3 linked regions of the Homo sapiens genome follow. The protein of the gene in region 1 interacts with the protein of each later gene in a pairwise test. Each region holds a gene or a part of one and is shown in the gene's direction. Other genes may lie near its edges.

What was found.
Region 2: the proteins of PTPRK (region 1) and TK1 interact in a two-hybrid assay, tested with the Homo sapiens proteins (2 studies listed by BioGRID and IntAct).
Region 3: the proteins of PTPRK (region 1) and LOX interact in binary tests that used the Homo sapiens proteins (3 or more experiments, as listed by UniProt).

Annotation. Positions count from the first base shown.
Region 1 is NC_000006.12:128,517,476-128,524,882, reverse strand, and holds the start of PTPRK (receptor-type tyrosine-protein phosphatase kappa isoform b precursor), read left to right. Parts: upstream 1-4,283; 5' UTR 4,284-4,524; coding exon 4,525-4,624; intron 4,625-7,407. UniProt on the Homo sapiens protein: Regulation of processes involving cell contact and adhesion such as growth control, tumor invasion, and metastasis. Negative regulator of EGFR signaling pathway. Forms complexes with beta-catenin and gamma-catenin/plakoglobin.
Region 2 is NC_000017.11:78,183,888-78,191,014, reverse strand, and holds the start of TK1 (thymidine kinase, cytosolic), read left to right. Parts: upstream 1-3,962; 5' UTR 3,963-4,020; coding exon 4,021-4,086; intron 4,087-4,196; coding exon 4,197-4,228; intron 4,229-5,849; coding exon 5,850-5,960; intron 5,961-7,127. Other genes in the region: AFMID (kynurenine formamidase), read right to left, coding at 1-45, 3,582-3,644. UniProt on the Homo sapiens protein: Cell-cycle-regulated enzyme of importance in nucleotide metabolism. Catalyzes the first enzymatic step in the salvage pathway converting thymidine into thymidine monophosphate.
Region 3 is NC_000005.10:122,068,260-122,075,259, reverse strand, and holds part of LOX (protein-lysine 6-oxidase isoform 1 preproprotein), read left to right. Parts: intron 1-1,090; coding exon 1,091-1,247; intron 1,248-4,670; coding exon 4,671-4,766; intron 4,767-5,091; coding exon 5,092-5,207; intron 5,208-7,000. UniProt on the Homo sapiens protein: Responsible for the post-translational oxidative deamination of peptidyl lysine residues in precursors to fibrous collagen and elastin. Regulator of Ras expression. May play a role in tumor suppression. Plays a role in the aortic wall architecture.

The DNA of each region.
Region 1 (7,407 bases):
CATAGGAATTGGAAAAAAATCAGATTTAGAATCCGAAGACCCCAGGTCAGAGTTACAATCCTGCTATTAGCTAGCAGCATAACCTTGGGCAGGTATTTTAATTGCTCTAAGCTTTGATTTTCCTCCTCAGTTAAGTGAAATTAATCATACCTGCCTTGCCTCCTTCACAGAGTTGGAGTGAGGATAGATCATGATCCATCATATTCATGTGGGTGAATATGCTTTACAAACTAAAAAGCGTAATATAAGCAGTTAGTTATTATTAACAAGCTGAGAATATTATCTAATTGCTTATAAATACATGCTGTGTGTACACTCATGATCTGCCACTGGGTAAATAAAACCTTGCTTCCGCTCAGTACAAGTTTGTGCATAGTCCTTTAGTGAACAAGACAAGGAAAATAACATTTAGCAGCTGTTATCAACCAGGCCCTTTCATGTCTATGCTTTTTTTTTTTTTTTTTTTGAGATGGAGTCTCGCTCTGTTGCCAGACTGGAGTGCAGTGGCACAATCTTGGCTCACTGCAACTTCCACCTCCTGGGTTCAAGTGATTCTCCTGCCTCAGCCTCCCGAGTAGCTGGGACAACAGGTACATGCCACCATGCCCAGTTAATTTTTGTATTTTTAGTAGAGACAGGGTTTCACCATGTTGGTCAGGATGGTTTTGATCTCCTGACCTCGTGATCCGCCCGCCTCAGCCTCCCAAAGTGCTGGGATTACAGGCGTGAGCCACCGTGCCTGGCCTCATGTCTATACTTACAAGCAAATCTGCAGCTCTACAAGAAAAGAAAATGTATATATATATATATATCTATCTATCTATATATATAGATAGATATATATATATAGATAGATAGATATATAATTTAATCCTATAAAAATATTATTACTTCATTTTCACAAAAAGGAAATTAAGATACGGTGGTATTAAATGTTGTTTAATGCAATGTTCCCAAATTCTGTTCCCTGGAACCCTGGTCCTGAGACCTACTCCTCTATTAAAGCGTTCTATGGTCCAAAACTTTGAGAAACAATGAATTCTTTTTCCTTCTCCAATAGACTTATAGCACATGATACCATATCGGAAACCATGGGAAAGATTCTATAATAAAGAAGCTTGCTATATTGAAGAAATCTGTTAAACTTTGCTCAGTCCAGAGTTCTCCGAGCTAATTTAATCTTGAGGCTGTATTTTTGAATTATACTTATTTAAATCTGATAGAACTGGGATTCTACAGAAAACACTTGCCAAATGCAGATCTAAGATTATGATTGGAGTTAGTGTGTGGTAGATCTGCAATCAGAACACAAAGCTGTCCTCTTTTAAAAGAAATAATGTAACCATAGGCCAAAACAATAGGAAAATAGAGAAGAGCTCCCATAAAATTTTAGTATACTACATCTATTGCTAACTATATTAATACTATGTTTTGTAATTTTTTTCAGCCTTCTTTTTTTCTTGGTTATAGTACAAAGACCTTTGTCTTCTGTTTTTGTTTATTGTTGTAAAATATACATAGCATAAACTTTATCATTTTAACAATTATTGAGTATGTAATTTGGTGGCATTGAGTCCATTCATGTTGTTAGGCAACTATTACCACCATCCCTCTCCAGAACAGTTTTATCTTTCTAAACTGAAACTCTGTATTGTCTTCTGATGATTTTACCCAACATTTGATCATAAGCATTTTTCCATCTTGCAATTTACTTTTTTCATAACTTTCATTTCTAGTGGCTATGAGATATTCTACCATATAATGCTTATGAATCTGCCTATTGTAGAATATTTATATTCTTTCTCTTTTGAAATGATAAACATATTAAATAACATTTTTCATATTTTGGATTATTTACTTGCAATAGCTTCTAGACTAAAGAATAGGAAGATTTTAGTGATTTTTAATGCAGGCTGATGATTTCTTTTCCTAAAAGTTTAACCAAATTTATACTTCTATTGATTCATGTATTCATTTATTCTTTCAAACAAACAAAAATCTACTAATTCCTAATATTTGCCACGCACTTAGCTATGTAGAAGACCCACCAGATTTCTACTCAAGTGATTTCAATCCATACTGGTCGCATTAGTTATGCACAAAAGGAATAATGTACTTACCTAAAAGTTTTATTGCATGCTTTTGATTTTTAGTGAGAAACCATCTGTGTTGGTTTGCTGATTTCTTTTGAGAATTTCCTTTCTTCTCTTTGCATCGCCTCCCCCACTTCTCACTTAAGTATGTGTCTTTGGGTAAGTTACTTAATCTATAACCTTGTTTTCTTATTTGTCAAATGGGAATAATTGTACCAAAGTCTTCACGGAATTGTTGACTGAACTCAATGAAACACTGAAAATCTTGATGTCTCAGTGTGACATTGTATACTCTAAGACAGTGCCTAGAACATTTGAAGAACTTTCTAAACATTACCTGCTATTATTATTACTTCCATGATAGAGAAATTAATAAAGTTTCATGAAATGAATCTTCTATCAGCTGTCCCCCAAAATGGGCAAGGTAAGAATTGTGTGCACTTTGTCCTGGCACTGTGTGAAAATATTTAAAGAAGTTTTTTGTTTGTGTGTTTAAACAAACAAATTACCACGTCATGAACTTCTTTTACATTTCTTACAAGAGTAGAACAGATGAATTAGTATACAGACAGTAGGGTTTTGTTTGTTTTTACTGGGAAAAATTGCTGCTAAATTTTAGGAAGTTCTGCTGTCCTCAAAAAGAAAAATATGTCCCTCAGTTTTTTGTTACCTGGGATCTAGGAATGTTCTCTAATTAAAGAAATGGAATGGTGATGGTGTGTTGAAAGGTATAGGTTAATGAGTTAAAAAAAAAAAATCTACATTGCACCCTAAGGAAGGATGAACTTAACTATGCTGAACTGAATTGACAAGGGTTGAGCTAGTCAGTGTGCTAATGAGCAGGCTACTATTCTCATAGAATTTTTAAAAGTCTTTTCTGCCTGATATGTATGTGTGTATAATATGTATTTATATATGTATATATTTGTGTGTATATTTATTACATTTTTGTTTCCACAGGCTCTGTCATAAGTCTGGTCATTAATAGCATATATTTGATTAAAAGAATATGTGGCTTGGTAAATTATGTGAATGTTATATTAAAATGAATTTCACATTGTCTTGATTTACAAAGGCTAAGATGTCTGAGAAACTGAGAGATGTCAATCAACAGACTATTGTTTTAGCAATTGTACATAACACATAAAAATTCTGAATCAAAGTTATTATGTTATTCAATTGTGACCATACCTATTTTTTGTGACATTTTACAAAAATGAATAAAGTATGCACCATACAGTCTTACCACAGAAGTAAGGCAGGGTGGCATATGGCGAAACCACTTCAAGCTGCTGAAGTAGTTAACTGTGAAATATTTTACTGTCATAATATAGCATTATTTTCTGCCAGATGAATCATTCCGAAGAAGCTGTTTTCATGGTCAGTGTAAAAGTCCTTTTGTTAAATACTTATGTCTTAACTACCTACTAGATATTAAAAAAAACAAAACCACACACACACCAGACCTAGGTGCAAGGAAGGGATAATAAGCCCTGATGCAGTTCTTAGGTGAGAACTGGAAAGGGGCCGGAGGGTTTCAGAGCAACAAGCAAAGTCAGTGAAGCAGAGTAAATCCAAATACTTGGCCAATGACAAATAAACCAGAAAGGAGACACGCCAGCTGTTCACGCTGGAAAGTTACTGATCGTTTATTCTGGTTCAAGTTTTATTTATTCTATGAATAAGGGACAAGTTTTCGATGGGGGTGGGGTGTCTTATTCCTTATTACAAGAATAAGGAACGGGGAGTTTTCAAGGCAGGCGGGTGTTTCCTCAGGGCGCTTCCACACTCCCCTTTCAATCAGCAACCGCTCGGGGGGACCTCCACCTTGGGACGGAACCCCAGGACGCCTCTCCTCGGACGGCGGGGGTTTCTCTGCGCGCGTCCTCGGTCGTCTGGTCGCACGGCTTACCGAACTCTCGCCTCTCAAATTCTGAGTTCTGGAACAGGGCAGCGAGCTGCGCCGGCTCCCCTTTCTCGCTCGCTCCCTCCGAGCAGCGGCTGGCGGCGGGGCCCAGGCTGCGAACAAAGGCGGCGCGGGGCGCGCGGCCGGGGCTGGCGCGCGTCTCTCCGGCAGGAGGCGGTGGCGGCGCCGCGCCCGAGCCCGCATTCCTCAGAAGCGCCCGGAGCCCGCGGGGCGACGTCACCCCCGGCTCCGCCCCCGTCCCTCCCCGAGCAAAGTAACTCTTGACTAACAGGAGCAGCCTCCGCCGAGCATGGAGAGCTGCCGCCGCGGCCGGCCGGCGACGCTGGCGACGCTTTCGCCCCTGAGGTAGTTTGGCGACCGCGAAGAAGGAAAAAGGGCGGGCGGGCGGCTGTCCTCTCACCGTCCTCACCCCGCGAGGCCCGGCCCGCTCCTCCGTCGTGGATTTCGCGGCGATCCCCCCGGCAGCTCTTTGCAAAGCTGCTTGAAACTTCTCCCAAACTCGGCATGGATACGACTGCGGCGGCGGCGCTGCCTGCTTTTGTGGCGCTCTTGCTCCTCTCTCCTTGGCCTCTCCTGGGATCGGCCCAAGGCCAGTTCTCCGCAGGTGAGTGGCCGGGGGGCGTCCCCGACGAACGCCTGGAGTCCTGGGCTCACGAGGGGTGAGCCAGGTCCCCGCTAGGGCTGGGGACAAGGATCGTGGGGAGCTCTCTCTGTCCGGGGGTGGGGAACACAGGGTAGAGGGAGGGCTGTCCCCAGAGTTCGTGCCAGGTGGGACGCGGGGCACCCATTGTTCCTCTCCGAAGCTTGCTCGGGGCTCAGGCTGGCACGGTCTAGCCGGAGAGTGTGGGGACCTGCTGGCTTCGGCGTCTCGCGTGGCCTGCGCCGGGCTAGTGGGGAAGAGAGAAAGAAAAAGTAGTTACGACTCCCGTGACGGCACTCTGTTGCTTGTGGTGCGGGTTTGTTGCTGTCTGCCACTTGGGTGTTTAAACAAATTCCCTGGGAAGCCATTGTCAGAAATGTGGAGATTCGAAGGGACTGACCTCGGCGCGCTTTGCCAGGTGCTTTTTGTCCCGGGAATAACCTCCCCTGACTATTGTCTAACTACTTCCCCGTCCCTCCCGGAGTCCCCTTTTCTCCTCCCCCAGCTCTGGGTTGCTCCCGGGCTTGCCCTGTGCGCTCGGGCACTGCTTGGAGCATGTTCTGTGTGTGTGTTGGCGGAGCCCTGTAAGATGTGTTGAAATGCGGTTCTAAGGACCCACTCTGAGCGTTCATGGGCATCGAGGTCTGGGCGCCTGGTGGAGGAAGCCTGACTCGCGCGTGGGAGCCCGCTCCTCGGGCAAAACCACCGCCAGGCTGGCCCCGCGCTCCCCGGATCCGGCCTGGGGCTCTGGCCCCGCGCTCCCCGGATCCGGCCTGGGGCTGGAAGCGGACTGTAAATGTCTGCCTTCTGCCGGAGAACCCAAAAGGAGACAAGTGGAGCGTCTCGCTGTAGCCCTGGGGGTTCTCGGTCAAGCCGCTCAGAGAAGTCCGTGAACCCTGGCTCTCCCGGTCCCGCCCTCTGTTCCCCTCCAGTTTTGTTATCCTTCGTGTAGGTTGGTTGCTTCTTTCGTTCTCTCCTCTGGGGGCTCTGAAGTTTCACCAGGTGGACGCTGGGGAGCGGGCTCCCGAGCACTTGTCTACCTCCCGCCAGTCCTGACAACTTTTCTGGCCAACCTACCCAGCTTCGCTTGGCTGGCGAGCGCATCTGCTGCTGGGGTTCGCGGTGCAGATGGAGACGCAGTGGTGGCCAGAGGGTGATGGAGAAGACGGGAAAAGCGACAGCCACGCTCCTGGCTGAAGCCGCAGGACGCAAATAACTTACTTTGTACCTGACAGTTTCTCACGTTGTTGTGGAGGCCCTGTTTCCTGGAAATAAACTCAAATTGTTGTTTTCTGGAGTAATCGTTTATTTCCCTTCCATTGCTCTCCTACCCCCGCCCCATTTAGAACTCTGTAAAGGGAGTTAAACAACAGATTCAGGTGGCAGCATGTGTCGTACATTCAGGCAGAGATTATGAAATGGCAGCACGCAGAGGAAAAGCCCTGTATATAATTGATGTACGCAGAGGGTAACAGCTCTATGCAAAAAATAATCCAATGGTTTAATTGAATTCTTTCTGGAGTAAGCATTACTGCATGCATTTCTGACATATAATGCCCGTTAGCATTGAAACCGTGCTTGATGTAACTCATTATATGCAGGCAAGTTGGAGTGAGTATTGATTTCTGCACAGTGTTTGTCACTGCACGGAGAGCCTACGCTTGAAAAGGCTTGTAGTTTGTTAATTGAAAGTTTGAACTCTACCAGTTGCATAATTAAACTTACATGTATTCAAGAGTTGCAACTATTAATGTCTCAACAGCGATGGATATATTTTCAGCAGTTAGAAAACTTTTTCTCTTTTTAAATGTTATTTACCCTTTAATTAACAAATAAATACTACTTTTCCTCCAGCTGAATGTGAAAATGAGCTTTTCTGATACCTGGAGTTTAGATACGTACAATAAACAATTGTGTTCTTAGATATCTAGTTCTAAGTACTTTAACTAAATATGCCTGGCTTTTCTTTAGTGACAAAGCATAACATTTGACATGATGTTGTATATTTAATTAATATAATGTGCATTCCTAAAAAGTACAGTAATCACAGGATTGCATCTCAAGATTTTGCCCTTTAGGAATGTATGCCCAGAAATGAATGTCTTTTATTCCCAGAGTTTAAAGTCAGATTGTGGATTTGCCTTTCTCCACAAATTATAAGTTTGTTTTGTAAATACTTCCTTTTTTTTCTGGCTACCATAAATCATTTGATATTTTATTGTCATAAAATTCTATGGCAGTCAGATTTGTTGCAGACATAGATTAGAGATGTATTGAAGATTGGAGGTGTATTCCATATTGCTGGTTTTTCTTATATTTTACTTTAACTAGTGAACTTTTATTCCTTTTGAGAAATTTAAATAAACCCACTTTAAAAGTCCAAGACAAATTCATGTTGAGAATTTAAAAATATCTGAAGTATGTCTTTCAAATCATACTCATTAAGATCAGTTTACTTTCCGATATCATGTGGTTCCTAATGTAGTAAGCTTCAAAAGCAAATTTTGAAAGGCTGAGCATTGTTGGGACTTTGATGTGTCATATACTTATTCAGTTTTCTTTGTTTAAACCAAAAATGTAAGAGTGTTTTCATTATTGTGACTTTTTTCTTAGCTTTTGCAGTTAAAGTGTAAAACTGCTGCACTGTGAGCCTCTTTAAAACCAGAACGTTCTGTAAATCCCAACTCATACATTCTTTCAGTTTCACCTCTCACTTAAAATGACACCCATGTCATATCTGAGGAAAC
Region 2 (7,127 bases), on another chromosome or scaffold:
CAGTCGGACAACCCATCGGCTGGGACAGTACTGATTCTCCAGCTCCTGCAGGGCACAAACATGAGGCTCCGTAAGACTTTCCTTCTCAACAGAGTGTGCCCCTCCCCCTCGCCCATGCCCGGCTGCTCCTCTCTGCCTTAGAAGCCCTCGCCCCAGTATCCCAGGGTCTCCAAGATGCCCTCAGATCCATGGTCTAGAGGTATACCAGCGACCGCTGTGCCTTTAGCCAGCTGGCAGCCTTAAGGGGAGATGAGGTCCCCCAAACGAATTCAGTTAATGCCATCATGGGCACCACTCCCACAGCAGTTACGACCAGGGGAGGCCAGGTGGCCCGGTGGCTCACGCCTGTAATCCTAGCACTTTGGGAGCCTGAGGCAGGTGGATCACTTGAAGTCAGAAGTTTGAGACCAGCCTGGCCAACATGGCAAAACCCCATCTCTACTGAAAACAAAAACTAGCCGAGCGTGGTGGTGTGCACCTGTAATCCCAGCTACTTGGGAGGCTGAGGCAGGAGAATTGCTTAAGCCTGGGAGGTGGAGGTTGCAGTGAGCCGAGATCGCACCACTGCACTCCAGCCTAGCGACAGAGCAAGACTCTACCTCAAAAAAATTAAAAAAGGAGGAGCTGATCTGCGCTGAGAGGGTGCGATTCTGACCACAGGAGGTCACTGCACAGTCAAAGGCACAGAGGTGAGGAGGAAGGAATGAAAGGTCAGTTTGCAAATGCTGGCAGGCCCTATGGCTGACACACAGAGGTGAGGCTGGGAGGCTGGGCTGGAGGAGGAGGGGCGGTGAATGTCGGGCTAACACCTTCACACTTTATGCAGAAAGTAACAAGGAACCATTCTGAGGCAGTTTGGAGAATTAAAAAAAGAAAAAAAAAAACAGAGGCTGGGCGCGGTGGCTCACGCCTGTAATCCCAGCACTTTGGGAGGCGGAGGCGGGATCACGAGGTCAGGAGTTCAAGATCAGCCTGACCAACATGATGAAACCCCATTTCTACTAAAAATACAAAAATTAACCAGGCATGGTGACGCGCGCCTGTAATCCCAGCTACTCAGGAGGCTGAAGCAGGAGAATAGCTTGAACCAGGGAGGCAGAGGTTGCAGTGAGCCGGGATCATGCTACTGCACTCCAGCCTGGGCGACAGAGTGAGACCCCATCTCAAAAAAAAAAAAAAAAAAACCAACAGAAAATGCTGGACACGGTGGCTCTCGCCTGTAATCCCAGCACTTTGGGAGGCCAAGATAGGCAGATCACTTGAGTCCAGGAGTTCCAGACCAGTCTGGGCAATATGGCGAAACACTATCTCTACGAAAAATATGAAAAATCAACCGGGCATGGTGGTGGACACCTGTAGTCCTAGCTATTCGGGAGGCTAAGGCAGGAGAATCGCTTGAGCCCAGGAAGCAGAGATTGTAGTGAGCCAAGATTGCGCCATTGCACTCCAGCCTGAGAGAGCAAAACCCTGTTTCAAAAAAAAAAAAACAAAACACTGGGCGTGGTGGCTCACACCTGTAATCCCAGCACTTTGGGAGGCTGAGGCGGGTGAATCACCTGAGGTCAGGAGTTCGAGACCATCCTGGCCAACATGGTGAAACTCCGTCTCTACTAAAAATACAAAAATTAGCTGGGCATGGTGGCGGGCGCCCGTAATCTCAGCTACTCGGGAGGCTGAGGCAGGAGAATCGCTGGAACTCGGGAGGTGGAGGTTGCAGCGAGCTGAGATCCCACCATTGCACTCTAGCCTGGGTGACAACAGCGAGACTCCATCTCAAAAAAAAAAAAAAAAAAAAGTAACAAGGAACCAGATTTTGAAGAAAGGGCTCAAAACCATCATGAGAAATGGGAAGTCAGGGCAGCCTCATGGCAAGGCCTGAGGTCAAATGCCATCTGACCTCCCTCACTTACTTACTGTTTTATCCTCAACAAGTTACTTAGTCTCTGAGATTCAGTTTCCTGACTGGTAGAAGGTATCTATCCAGGCCCGGCACAGTGGCTCACACCTGTAATCTCAGCACTTTGGGAGGCCGAGGCGGGTGGATCACTTGAGGCCAGGAGTTCAAGACCAGTCTGTCCAACATGGCGAAACCCCATCTCTATTAAAAATACAAAAATTGGCCAGGCGCAGTGGCTCATGCCTGTAAACCCAGCACTTTGGGAGGCCAAGGGGGGCGGATCATGAGGTCAGGAGTTGGAGACCATCCTGGCTAACACAGTGAAACCCCATCTCTACTAAAAATACAAAAAAATTAGCCGGGCATGGTTGCGGGCGCATGTAGTCCCAGCTACTCAGGAGGCTGAGGCCGGAGAATGGCGTGAACCCTGGAAGAAGAGGTTGCAGTGAGCCCAGATCGCGCCACTGCACTCCAGCCTGGGCGATAGAGCGAGACTCTGTCTCAAAAGAAAAAAAAAAAAAATTAGCCAGGCATGTAGTACCAGCTACAGTGTGCCTGTAATCCCAGCCACTCGGGAGGCTGAGGCAGGAGAATCACTTGAACCCGGGAGGTAGAGGTTGCAGTGAGCCGAGATCATGCCACTGCACTCCAGCCTGGGTGACTGAGCGAGACTGTGTCTCAAAAAAAGAAGGCATGTATCCAAATCACAAGGTTAAAAGAGATAAAGCATGCGAGTAAAATAAAGCAAGCCAGTCAGTGTGGGTTGCTTCTTCCTCCCAGTGAAGGAGCTCTTTGTCAGAGGTCCTTGGATCTGTCCAATCTGTACCTGGAAAGGTTATTACCTGTAGGATCCTTACAGCCACACCTGGCACACTCTGTGATCACTACCACCATCTTTGTTGCTATTATTTATGATCATGATTATACAATGGGTTTCTTTTCTTTCTTTCTTTTTTTTTTTGAGCCACCGCACCCGGCCTGTATGTTTCTAACCTTCACAACCCCAATGTAAATACCAGCTGTTCTGAATCCTTCAGCCTGTGCCACATAAGCACAGACCCAAAAACATTGTGTAACCTCAGATCAAGGTCCAGAACTTTGTCCCCTAACCTCCTGCGGGTCTATGGATTTTTTTTTTTTTTTTTTTTTTTTTTTTTGAGACTAAGTCTTGGTCTATCGCCCAGCCTTCCAGGCTGGAGTACAAATGGCATGATCTCGGCTCACTGCAACCTCCACCTCCTGGGTTCAAGCGATTCTCCTGTCTCAGCCTCCCCAGTAGCTGGGATTACAGAGGTACATCACCACGCCCGGCTAATTTTTGTATTTTTAGTAGAAACGGGGTTTCACCATGTTGGCCAGGCTGGTCTCGAACTCCTGACCTCGTGATCCGCCAAAAGTGCTAGGATTACAGGTGTGAGCCGCCACGCCTGGCAGGGTCTACGGATATTATTAGCATAGTCAGGACTTCAATTTTCTTTATCCTGAAAACCAGGTTAACAAAAATCCTTAGGAGAAGGTAAAATACACCATGGTGCTCAAGCACTGGGGACCTGGCACGCACTAGGCGCTCTGCATGCCCACAGGAGTGCTCTAGACGGCTTCTAAGCTTCCTTCTTGGAATTCCAATCTAATAAATGAGCTAACTCCGCCCCAGCCCCTTAGTCCCTCCCTGCAATCCACCTACCTCTGCAGACATCTTCTTCCAAGGAACCTTGCTTGGGAAACCCACACCAGACACATCCATCATGGCGTCTACAGCCGCATGGGCGTGCGTCCCTCTGTTTATATGGCCAGAGCCCCGCCTCGCTCCGCCCCTTTAAACTTGGTGGGCGGACCGAGGCGGGGCTCAGACCAGGCCCCACCCCGATCAGCCACGTCCATCGCCCTGATTTCCAGGCCCTCCCAGTCCCTGGGCGCACGTCCCGGATTCCTCCCACGAGGGGGCGGGCTGCGGCCAAATCTCCCGCCAGGTCAGCGGCCGGGCGCTGATTGGCCCCATGGCGGCGGGGCCGGCTCGTGATTGGCCAGCACGCCGTGGTTTAAAGCGGTCGGCGCGGGAACCAGGGGCTTACTGCGGGACGGCCTTGGAGAGTACTCGGGTTCGTGAACTTCCCGGAGGCGCAATGAGCTGCATTAACCTGCCCACTGTGCTGCCTGGCTCCCCCAGCAAGACCCGGGGGCAGATCCAGGTGCGGGGGCCAGCCCTGCGCGTGGCTGGGGATGAGGTGGTCGTGGTGATAGCCTGTGTCCAGGCATCCGCGCAGGGCGGGCCCTCAAATGACCTCACCTTCTCTCCTAGGTGATTCTCGGGCCGATGTTCTCAGGAAAAAGGTAATGGCTTCGCGGGGCTGGGGTGGAGCTCCTTCCTCTTCTCCGGGGACCCCTTGTCCCGTCCCTCCCCTCCCCTTCCCTCCCCTCCCCTCCCCTCCCCTTCCCTTCCCTCCCCTTCCCTTCCCCTAGAAGGACCAGCACAGCCTCCTACAGCTCCCGCCTGGGGTGCTCCTCCCTTGAATTCAGTCCAGGAGGAAGTCTCTGCCCTCTTCTGCCCAGGCCAAGCCCCTCGTCCTGTGTGGACGCCACTCCCTCCTGGAGCTGGTGACAGCTGCTTACAGCTTAGCTGTCTTCCCCACCAAGTCCTCTGAGAAGGTGGCAACCAGTTGTGTCCCCTGTAGGCCAGGCCTTTTTGTACACCCCTATTCAATGTGGCTGTTTCCTTCTAAGGCCAAGGAAACGTAGTCGCTTTCTAAACCAAGGAGTCTGAAGCCGTGGAGCCTCTGCTCTCCTGAGGTGATAGAACCATTCCCTGACCCGGGTGGGGCTAGTGAGTTTCTTGAGTAAACTACCCACGCACCATTCTTTTTGTTTTGTTTTTGTTCTTCTAGAGGTAGGATCTTGCTATGTTGCCCAGGCTGGTCTCAAACTCCTGGGCTCAAGCAATTCTCTCACCTCAGCCTCCCAAGTAGCTGGGACTACAGGCGTGCACCCCCCCGCCTCCACCCAGCTAATTTTATTTTATTTTTATAGAGCTGGGGTCTTGCTATGTTGCCCAAGCTGGTCTTGAACTCCTGGTCTCAAGCAATCCTCCTACTTCAGCATCCCAAAGTGCTGGGATTACAGATGTTAGCCACCATGCCCTGCCCCAACATTCTTTTATGGCCCTGGGGATCACTTCAGCTCAAACCCCTTGCTCAGGAAGATGTGGCTCAGAGTTGGACTTCTTGGACCCAGAAGCAAGTGCTTTTGACGCTGCACACAAAGACTTTCTGAAATTAATTTAGAAAAGCTGTATGCCAGGTGTGGTGGCCCACGCCTTTAATCCCAGCGCTTTGGAAGGCTGAGGTGCGTTGATCACTTGAGGTTAGGAGTTTGAGACCACCCTGGTCAACGTGGTAAAACCCCATCTCTACTGAAAAAAAAAACCAAAAATTATCTGGGCATGGTGGCAGCCTCCTGTAATCCCAGCTACTCGGGAGGTTGAGGCAGGAGAATCTCTTGAACCCGGAAGGCAGGGGTTGCAGTGAGCTGAGATCGCTCCACTGCACTCTAACCTAGGCAACAGAGCGAGACTCCACCCCAAAAAGAAAGAAAGAAAAACTCTGAACTCTGGGAACAACTCTGGGATGAGGTTACTTTGGAATGCAGTCGCAGGTTCCCTCTACATGTAGCCTTTGCTTCTGCCTTCCCCACTACATCTTGGAGAAGGTTACTCCTCCCACACTTCCTGGGACCACCTGAGTACCATTCCTGGACCTCTTCCCCATAGAGAATTCTGACTTCCAACCCTCTTTGTAGGGATATTATACCCTGCCTGCTCTGCCCTGCTCTTTTCTGGCTGTGGTGGGCTCAGTCTGCATACCACTAGGGACAATGAGGAGCCAGGCTTGTTGGGGAGGGGTCTCCTTCTCCCACTCCTCCCGCCGTGGACCTCACCTGACCCTCTCTCCTCTTGCAGCACAGAGTTGATGAGACGCGTCCGTCGCTTCCAGATTGCTCAGTACAAGTGCCTGGTGATCAAGTATGCCAAAGACACTCGCTACAGCAGCAGCTTCTGCACACATGACCGGTCAGTCCCTGCCCCCTGCAGTCCTGTCCAGTGGAAAATCACAAGGCACAGGACACACTGTTAGGACTCTCTTTAATGGGGATGGTTAATCATTTGAACATTGAATGATTCAAATCAGCACACTTTCCAAGGTGCTTGGCAAGGTAGCGCACACTCTCCACTCCCTGGGCTGGAGCCAGTGGTTCTCCACTGAGGGTGATTTTGCCGCCAGGGTCCATTTGACAATGTTTGAAGACATTTCTAGTTGTTGCAACTGGAGGGGGGAGGGGATGCTTTTGGGCTTTAATGTGTAGAAATCAGGGACACTGCTGCTAAGGGTCCTATGGTGCAGAGGACGGCCCCCATGCAAGAACGAGCTGGCCCCAAATGTCAGGAGCCTGCCAGTGTTCAGAAACTCTGCCGTAGGGTTTCAGCTTCACACAGGCTGCAGACTGGTTTGGTTTGGCCTGCACGTTGATTTTTGTTTAATTTTTTAGTTGTCCGTTGTTGGCTGGCTCCCCCGTCACCTGGCAGCCTTCACGCTTCCCTGTTTTATGTGTAGCTGTTTGAGCTCGCTGGACATTTCCGCCTGCAACCTCAGTTTGGGAGTTAAATTCACTTCCTTGGCAGCAGATGTGGGCCTGATGTTTCTGAGCCTGAGACGCTTTGCTTGGTCCTCTGGACTTGTCCACCTGGGCACCCAGTGGCAAAGCCATGCTGTGCCACACATTATAGGGCTTCAGCCTCAGAGCCCTGGCTGGGAGCTGTATCCGAGAGTTGCTATGGCTGTGCAGAGAACAGATCCACCCGGCGTGTGGCCTTCGGTGGGAGCTGAGGGGCTCCTGAAGCCAGATGCTGGTGGAGTGGAGGGTGCTTGGGGCTTGGAGTTGCATGTGGGAATTTAACCGCACTTCGTGACCATGCTGTCTGATGTAGGTCATTTACTTTTCCAAATTTGCTTCCTCATTCCTAAGATGCGATGTCCACGGCACAGGGTGGTGTTACACCTGGTGGGGACAGGGAAAGCAGAGGAGGTCACTTCGTTCCAGCTGTTGGAAGTACAACTTCTGGAGTCAGTCAGATCCGGGATTAAATATGAGTTCTGCCCGTGTGTCACAAGTCATCTCTAACACGGGCCACAGAGGCCAAGGCTGGGCCAGCAGCATTGATGGCTCGAGAGGCTGCCCT
Region 3 (7,000 bases), on another chromosome or scaffold:
ACATAACCCATCTACTACAAGATCCTGTTATCTTTTGAAATGGAAAATCTGAAGCCCAGCTTATTAAAGCTGTTGATAGGATACAGCAATTGACTTCAATAAAATTTACTCCAATGCATTACAGATAGGATTTCTTTAAAAGTCCATTACAGCCAAGATCATCTAAAGTTAGTTAGCATTAAATAGCATTTCATAAAGACCACACGTTTTTTATCACAAGCATTCAGAAACCATTCTCAAAGAAAGATGTAGATGATACATCCCATCAGCTCAGAAGGACCTTCTTCCATCTTTTAAAAGACCTGTATCAAGCCCAAGGTGGTTGCCTTTTCTATCCTAAATTTAAGGATTTTTGCATAAGGTAATTCTATCATTTGCCTTAGTAACTTGCCTGGGTGTTTATTTTCAGGAAATCCTCATGTGTGGCCTTAAACTTACTTCCTGAAATCCAAGCCAGTCCTCATTGTTTTTTCCTTATGTGGGAAGATGAACAGCTCAGCACCTTCCATTTAATGAAATAACAAAAGTAGATATAAGTCCCTTAATTTCCTGATAAAATAGGAATATTTTATTTCTAAATAAAAGTGTGTACTATTTAAATAATAATGGTGGATAAAACATGCCATGAGTTCTCCCTTGCTTTTCACTAATGATTTTAAATATGTGAGAACTCAATTTTTTAAAATCTCATAGAAACCTTGAAAAAGTCATGTGCTGCTTTTCGGAATGAAACATCAGCAGTGGCAGCCAAGGGGAATACACTAGAGAACACAGGGCAAGTTTCACTTAAGCACAGATAATTTATTGTCCATTTCTATTTAATATTCAAAGACAAAATGGGGTACAATAAGAAAGCAAAATACTGAACTAAGTCTTTTGTCCTAGTAGCAAAGTTAAACCTTACAATTTTGATAGACTTATGTCCTGGGGAAAAAAAAACCCTAGCATGAATCTCTCTTTTAGAAGATAAATTTGGTCTCAATTTTAATGTGAAAACAAATTTGTGAAGCCATGGGGGAAGTCATTTAATATCTTCATTGCTTTCTCTGTATGTAACTGACCACCATCTTTTTGTTTTGTGGGACATCAGACATTACCACAGTATGGATGAGTTTAGCCACTATGACCTGCTTGATGCCAACACCCAGAGGAGAGTGGCTGAAGGCCACAAAGCAAGTTTCTGTCTTGAAGACACATCCTGTGACTATGGCTACCACAGGCGATTTGCATGTACTGCACACACACAGGTATGTTGGCACCCTGAAATCCAGAACCTCAAGCCTCAGAGAGAAACGGGTCATCTACCGTTAGTTAGCATTAAATAGCATTTCATGAAGAGCACACACATTTTTATCAAAAGGATACAGAGACTGTTCTCAAAGAAAACTGTAGATGATATACCCCATGAGTCTAGTATTTTCTTTCCTCTCACCTCTCTTTTATAAAGCATTCAATTTGAGGTCCATGTTGTTAAGATGTAAAATAATTGGGAAAAGGCAAATGATGGCTTGATGATCCAAATTACTTTTGAAGTATTTCCAGTTATGCATGTGGCCCCTATTCATGATCACAGGTCAGTGTGGGTCCTTGTTACAGTCCACAATGAAGAACAAAAATTTACTCTCTGAAAAAGTCTGAATGGTTGACAACATATGCACCCATTCTGTATTCCTTAACCGGCTTAGTAAATAACTGTAAAAAAAGATATCTCTGTTTTTTCACCTGTGAAACCATTCCTTCCTTCTGTTTTATGCTGAAAATAGAATAGTGGTTGCGGTTAGCAAATGGAGGAAAAATAAGTTTCTTTAAAAGCACTTTAAAAAGTTGCCTCTTTTAATAATGCAAATAAGAGCAGAAGGACACCATTTCTTTCTCCACACATATATATTTAAATCTACAGTATAATTGATGTCAGATGTTGTTTGGATGGATTTTTTTAAAGTAGTGCTGAACTAAGCAGTTTGCATGTTTTATCATTGGAAAATGCGTGTCAGTTAAAATCTATGTCAGTATTTCCATATGAAACCCTAATTTGTAAAAGGACATTATAATTTGACTCCCGCCCAGATCTTGGCAAGGGGTAGTGAATGTACATAACTGAGGGTATGAAGGGATCAGCAGTTGGCATCTTGGGAAGCAAATTCCAGGGCTGTGGCAGGAAGCTGTTTGGTGACCTAAATGTTACCATTGCTTTTTTCTCTGAGCTTAGAACATCATAGCAATTGGAGGGGGAAAGGTTAACTTCTACATGCCCCAGGACAGTACTTACTTAAGAAAGAGGAGATGTAACTTACCCACACATTATTCATGTGTGCATATACAGATTCCCTTTTCAGTGATCTGCAAGTCCTGTGCAAGGGACCTAGAGTTTATTTGCCCCATTTACAAAAAGAGGCACTCTGGACAGCTCACTCTGAAATATTTGAAGCTGGGATTGTAGACATTATAGCACTTCTGGTTCCCCCCCTTCTTTGGGGTGACCCCATTTCATTTTATATGGTAGCTTTCTTGTTAATCATCTTCCATATATGTTCTTTTTAACCATTATTCACCAAATCTTGCATTGAGCGATTTATATATTTGTTTTTTTCATTAGATCAATGTCTCTTTCACATGGACTTCATTTAAAGGAAAAAATAGTCTCTCAATCACCTAATGATGACTCAGATTAGTTTATTGTAATGCTGCTTAAATGTATTCAAGCATAAAACTAGGTATAACTTCTTTAGATTTATACTTTTACATATTAATAACTCTTGTGTTCTGAGACAAAAATTTACATATTAAATATATACGAAACTAAAACAGTTGAATTCACCTTATTAATTTAATGTAACAAATAGTATGTATTGCTAAAACTCAAATTGCTGATTTAGAGAGCCTCAGCTAACATTCAACATTGAATCTGTTTTTATATTTTGACTTTGCCTACATGAAATGCCTATTTGCCTTAGTAACTCGTTTTTGCTTGCTTGTGCAAATAATCAAAGCTTATACTTAAGTTCTGCCAGCTTATGAACTCGAGTGCCAATTTCAGCATTTTTAAGGCTCTTTTGTCTATTTGAAGGCAAGATAAGCACTGAAGCATTATGTAAACCCATCTTAAATGAATATCTAATCCAGTGAATCCTTTACAATGTCATGAACATTGTGGTAGTAGTAGAAGTAATAACTAGCACTTATTGAGTATGTATTATATGCCAGAATCAGAATTGTATGCTGGAATCAGACCAAAAATTCTTCATTTTATATTTACTACTCAACATACTGTTAAGTGATGTATGGATCAAGGTAGGAATCTAGATAATAACAACAGAATATGAGTCTCACTGCTGTGACACTGACCCTTCTGAGTTGGGCCTGTCTGTGCTATTGTGTGCTCTATGACAGCACAATTCTCCCCTGCTCTTCCCAAATCAAGCTACAGCTAAACCAGCATTGGTAGAGCATGCTAAGGTGATTTTACTGTCTCTTGGGTGACCAAAGTGATCTTAAACAGCAAAGCAATATTGGTTGCTAGAATTGAATGGCAGTATTGAGTTAAAATGAATCTAGCATGTACTTTGAATTTAAATTACTATTAGAATAAAAATACAAGTTAAAACTTTTTGTGAAGAACTAATGGAATCAAGAATATACCTACAGACTCCAATCTGAGGAAACTTCTCTAGACTATAACATTCTTAAAAGCAAGGATTGTATTTGTTATATTTTTCTCCTCCCAGCCTGTAGAAGGCATTCATTTACTTATTGATGTGAATATTTTAGCAAGTGGAGTGATGTGGCATTCATCAATTTAGTCATGCATTTACCCCTTCAACAAAATATGTCATATTTCAGTGACTGTATGAGAGAGAGTATAGTGGGGTAGTTAAGAACAGGGACTCTGGACCTTGATTACCTAAACTCAAAACCAGCTTAGCCACTTACTAGGCTGGATACCCTTGGGTAAGTTATTTGATCTTAGTGTGCCTTAGTTTTCTCATCTATAAAATGGAGATAATAGCCCCTCATGTAGTTGTGAAAATTGAATTTTTATACACACACACACACACACACACACACATATAAATGTTTACGATTGTTCCTGCCACATACTATTTAATAAATGTTAGTTATTCAAAGATACAACGTAAACTCTACCCTTAGGGAACTTGCAGCCTCTGGTTAGCTATATTCTTACATAGCATGTTATAATGCAGAGCAAAAAGGGATAAACACTGTAAAAGCTATCCACAATAAAAAGTATCATGGACGTTCAAAGCACAAGAAGGTAATTTCCAAAAGGGGAAACTGGGGAGGATTTCACTGAGAAGAGGACATTTGAGCTAAGATAATTATTATGTGGCCTTTATTCCTGAACTGTTAAAATTCTAGAACTTTGGTAGAGGCCTATTTTGTTCCTTCAGATTGCATTTATCTCTGGTGATATATGACACTTTTAAGAAGTGAGGTGTACTACTACTTATATTAGTCCTGTATCTTTTTTAGCTGGAGGTGCTATAAGGCTGAGTAATAAATACTTCTCAAGGGAGATGAAATATAAGTATAGTTTTATGTCAGACTCTTGTAAGTACTAACTTAAAATTTAATTTGCAAATAATAGCATATTATTTATCATAGTCTGACCACATACCATAATTTTAAATTTTTTATTTTGTTTATCTTAGGGATTGAGTCCTGGCTGTTATGATACCTATGGTGCAGACATAGACTGCCAGTGGATTGATATTACAGATGTAAAACCTGGAAACTATATCCTAAAGGTAAAGACCTTTGAAAATATATCATATATTGATATTGCAGATCAATAGGCCCTCTTCTCTGGATTCAAATGTTAAATAATCATGGTATTGGAAGCAATTATACATCCTCAAACTATTTATAAACAATCTAATCTAATCTAATCTGTCTTATTTTAAAGAACTTCAGGGGAAAATATGCAGTCTCTTTCCATAACGTCTCCAGAGTTTAACCACTTACTTAAGTTAAAATCCCTTCCCTGCTTGATTTAGCTAAGTCCTCATTAACAATTTCCTTATTGTAGCCCTATGGAAAAAGAAATACTGAGGAACTCTTTGTGTTGCCCAGGTCAGTGTAAACCCCAGCTACCTGGTTCCTGAATCTGACTATACCAACAATGTTGTGCGCTGTGACATTCGCTACACAGGACATCATGCGTATGCCTCAGGCTGCACAATTTCACCGTAAGTGTTATTTGCTTAGCTAAGTAATTGTTGTCACAAATAATTTTTGTTCATGCCAAACATTATACATAGAATGTATCTGTTTCTGCTACTACAGCAGCTTTCTTGTAAGCAGACCAAAGGCAGAAAATGGTATGCAGTCTGATTTTATTTTTTTAAATAATGGAAGGCAAAGGAGAATGTACTAAGGTTTTTAGTTTTCAGGAGAAGCTTAGTTTTCAGGAGAAGACATAAACAGACCACAGTGTTTACCCAGAAGGCATTTGTGAAGGCCCAATATATCAAATTGCTCAATATGTAGAGTGGGTGAGCTTGTAGAAGCCCCAGTAGTTGCTTCTTGGCCCCTTCCTCGCAGTCCCTGAAAGAATTGCTAGGGTTCTTCAAAGTACATTTTGAAAACCACTGCCATAAAGTAAGCAACTGAAGAGTTCAGCCCCCTCTGGTCTGTACAAATCAAGATGTCATATATTTGAGTTCTAGAACCATTGATACTAGGAAAATACTCTGCAAAAGATTGAGGTGTGTGGAGGTTTCTTCATAATATTCCTACTCCTGAGACTCTTCTTAGAATGAAATACTGGAAGATATCTATTCACAGGGAGGTGCTCTGATGAAAATAATGAAAAAAGGTTGGGTAGGTTTGACTGCATGCCTGTCTGTCCTGCCCCATCTCCTTAAGCACTACCTCCCCAAGTGTTGCTGGGTGCTAGATTATAATTACATATGCCACTTGAGTTATGCCTTCCCAACAATGAGAATACTATTTCCATTGGAATGATACTCAACACTCATCAGCTTTGCTTTGTCACTGGAGAACCACCAGTGCCACTGGATCATACAGACAGGTATAGCAGAGCTATACTAGAATCTCATAATTAATAGAAATTTCTGCCTGATACAAAAACCCAGGACTTTCTACATAAAGAAGCAGAGACTGTGCTTTACAAGTGTTGTCACAACATTAGAGATAGATGAAGCCTGTGATAGCAAAAGGATAGCACTGAAAAAACAGAGTCACATACATTCTTCTGAACATGCCCACAGCACAGAAAACCTGGCAGGTTTTATGGCCCATATTGTGTGGAGTTGGTTATAGTAGAACCAACCCCCGACCCCCACCGCCAGAACACCATTATAATTTAAGCTAAAATAATTTGCACTTAAATAAACAGATTAGTTTTTTCTTAATTTTTATAATTCCTTAATTTATTCATCCATTCTCCATTTATTTATTCATTTGCACTCTCATTTTTGTACTGTTTGTTGATGCCCTGAGCTAGATATTACTGAATAATGCAAACATAAATAGGACTACTAATCTCTATACTGCTGTAGCCTTATTACACTATTTTCAGTTAATTACTTATGAATTTCTTTGTTTAATGTCTGTCTCCTGCTCTACTCAGTGATGGCTGTGATTTAGTCTCTTGTCCACTGTTGTATACCCATTGTCAGGTACAGGTCTGCCACCTTGCAGCCTCTCACTCACTGCTTAATGAATTTCTTTCTCAAATAATTTGAGTAAAGGCATTTTGAGTAGGGGAAGTGAGAGAATTACACATATAACTGTAATAGAGATACAATATGAGAAGTTTCATGAGGGATAAAATAAAATGTGGTGAGATCAGAAGGACCTTTGCTATAAGTTTGGTAACTCCCAACTATGTCTTACTGACTTCCCACTAGAAATAGGTCTGGAGAGGTCTGTTGCATAGAATGTCTCTTGCTTTTAATCAGTAGAATCCATTGAATTGGGTATTGCTAGATATTTAGAAGAAATAAAAATTGTTGTA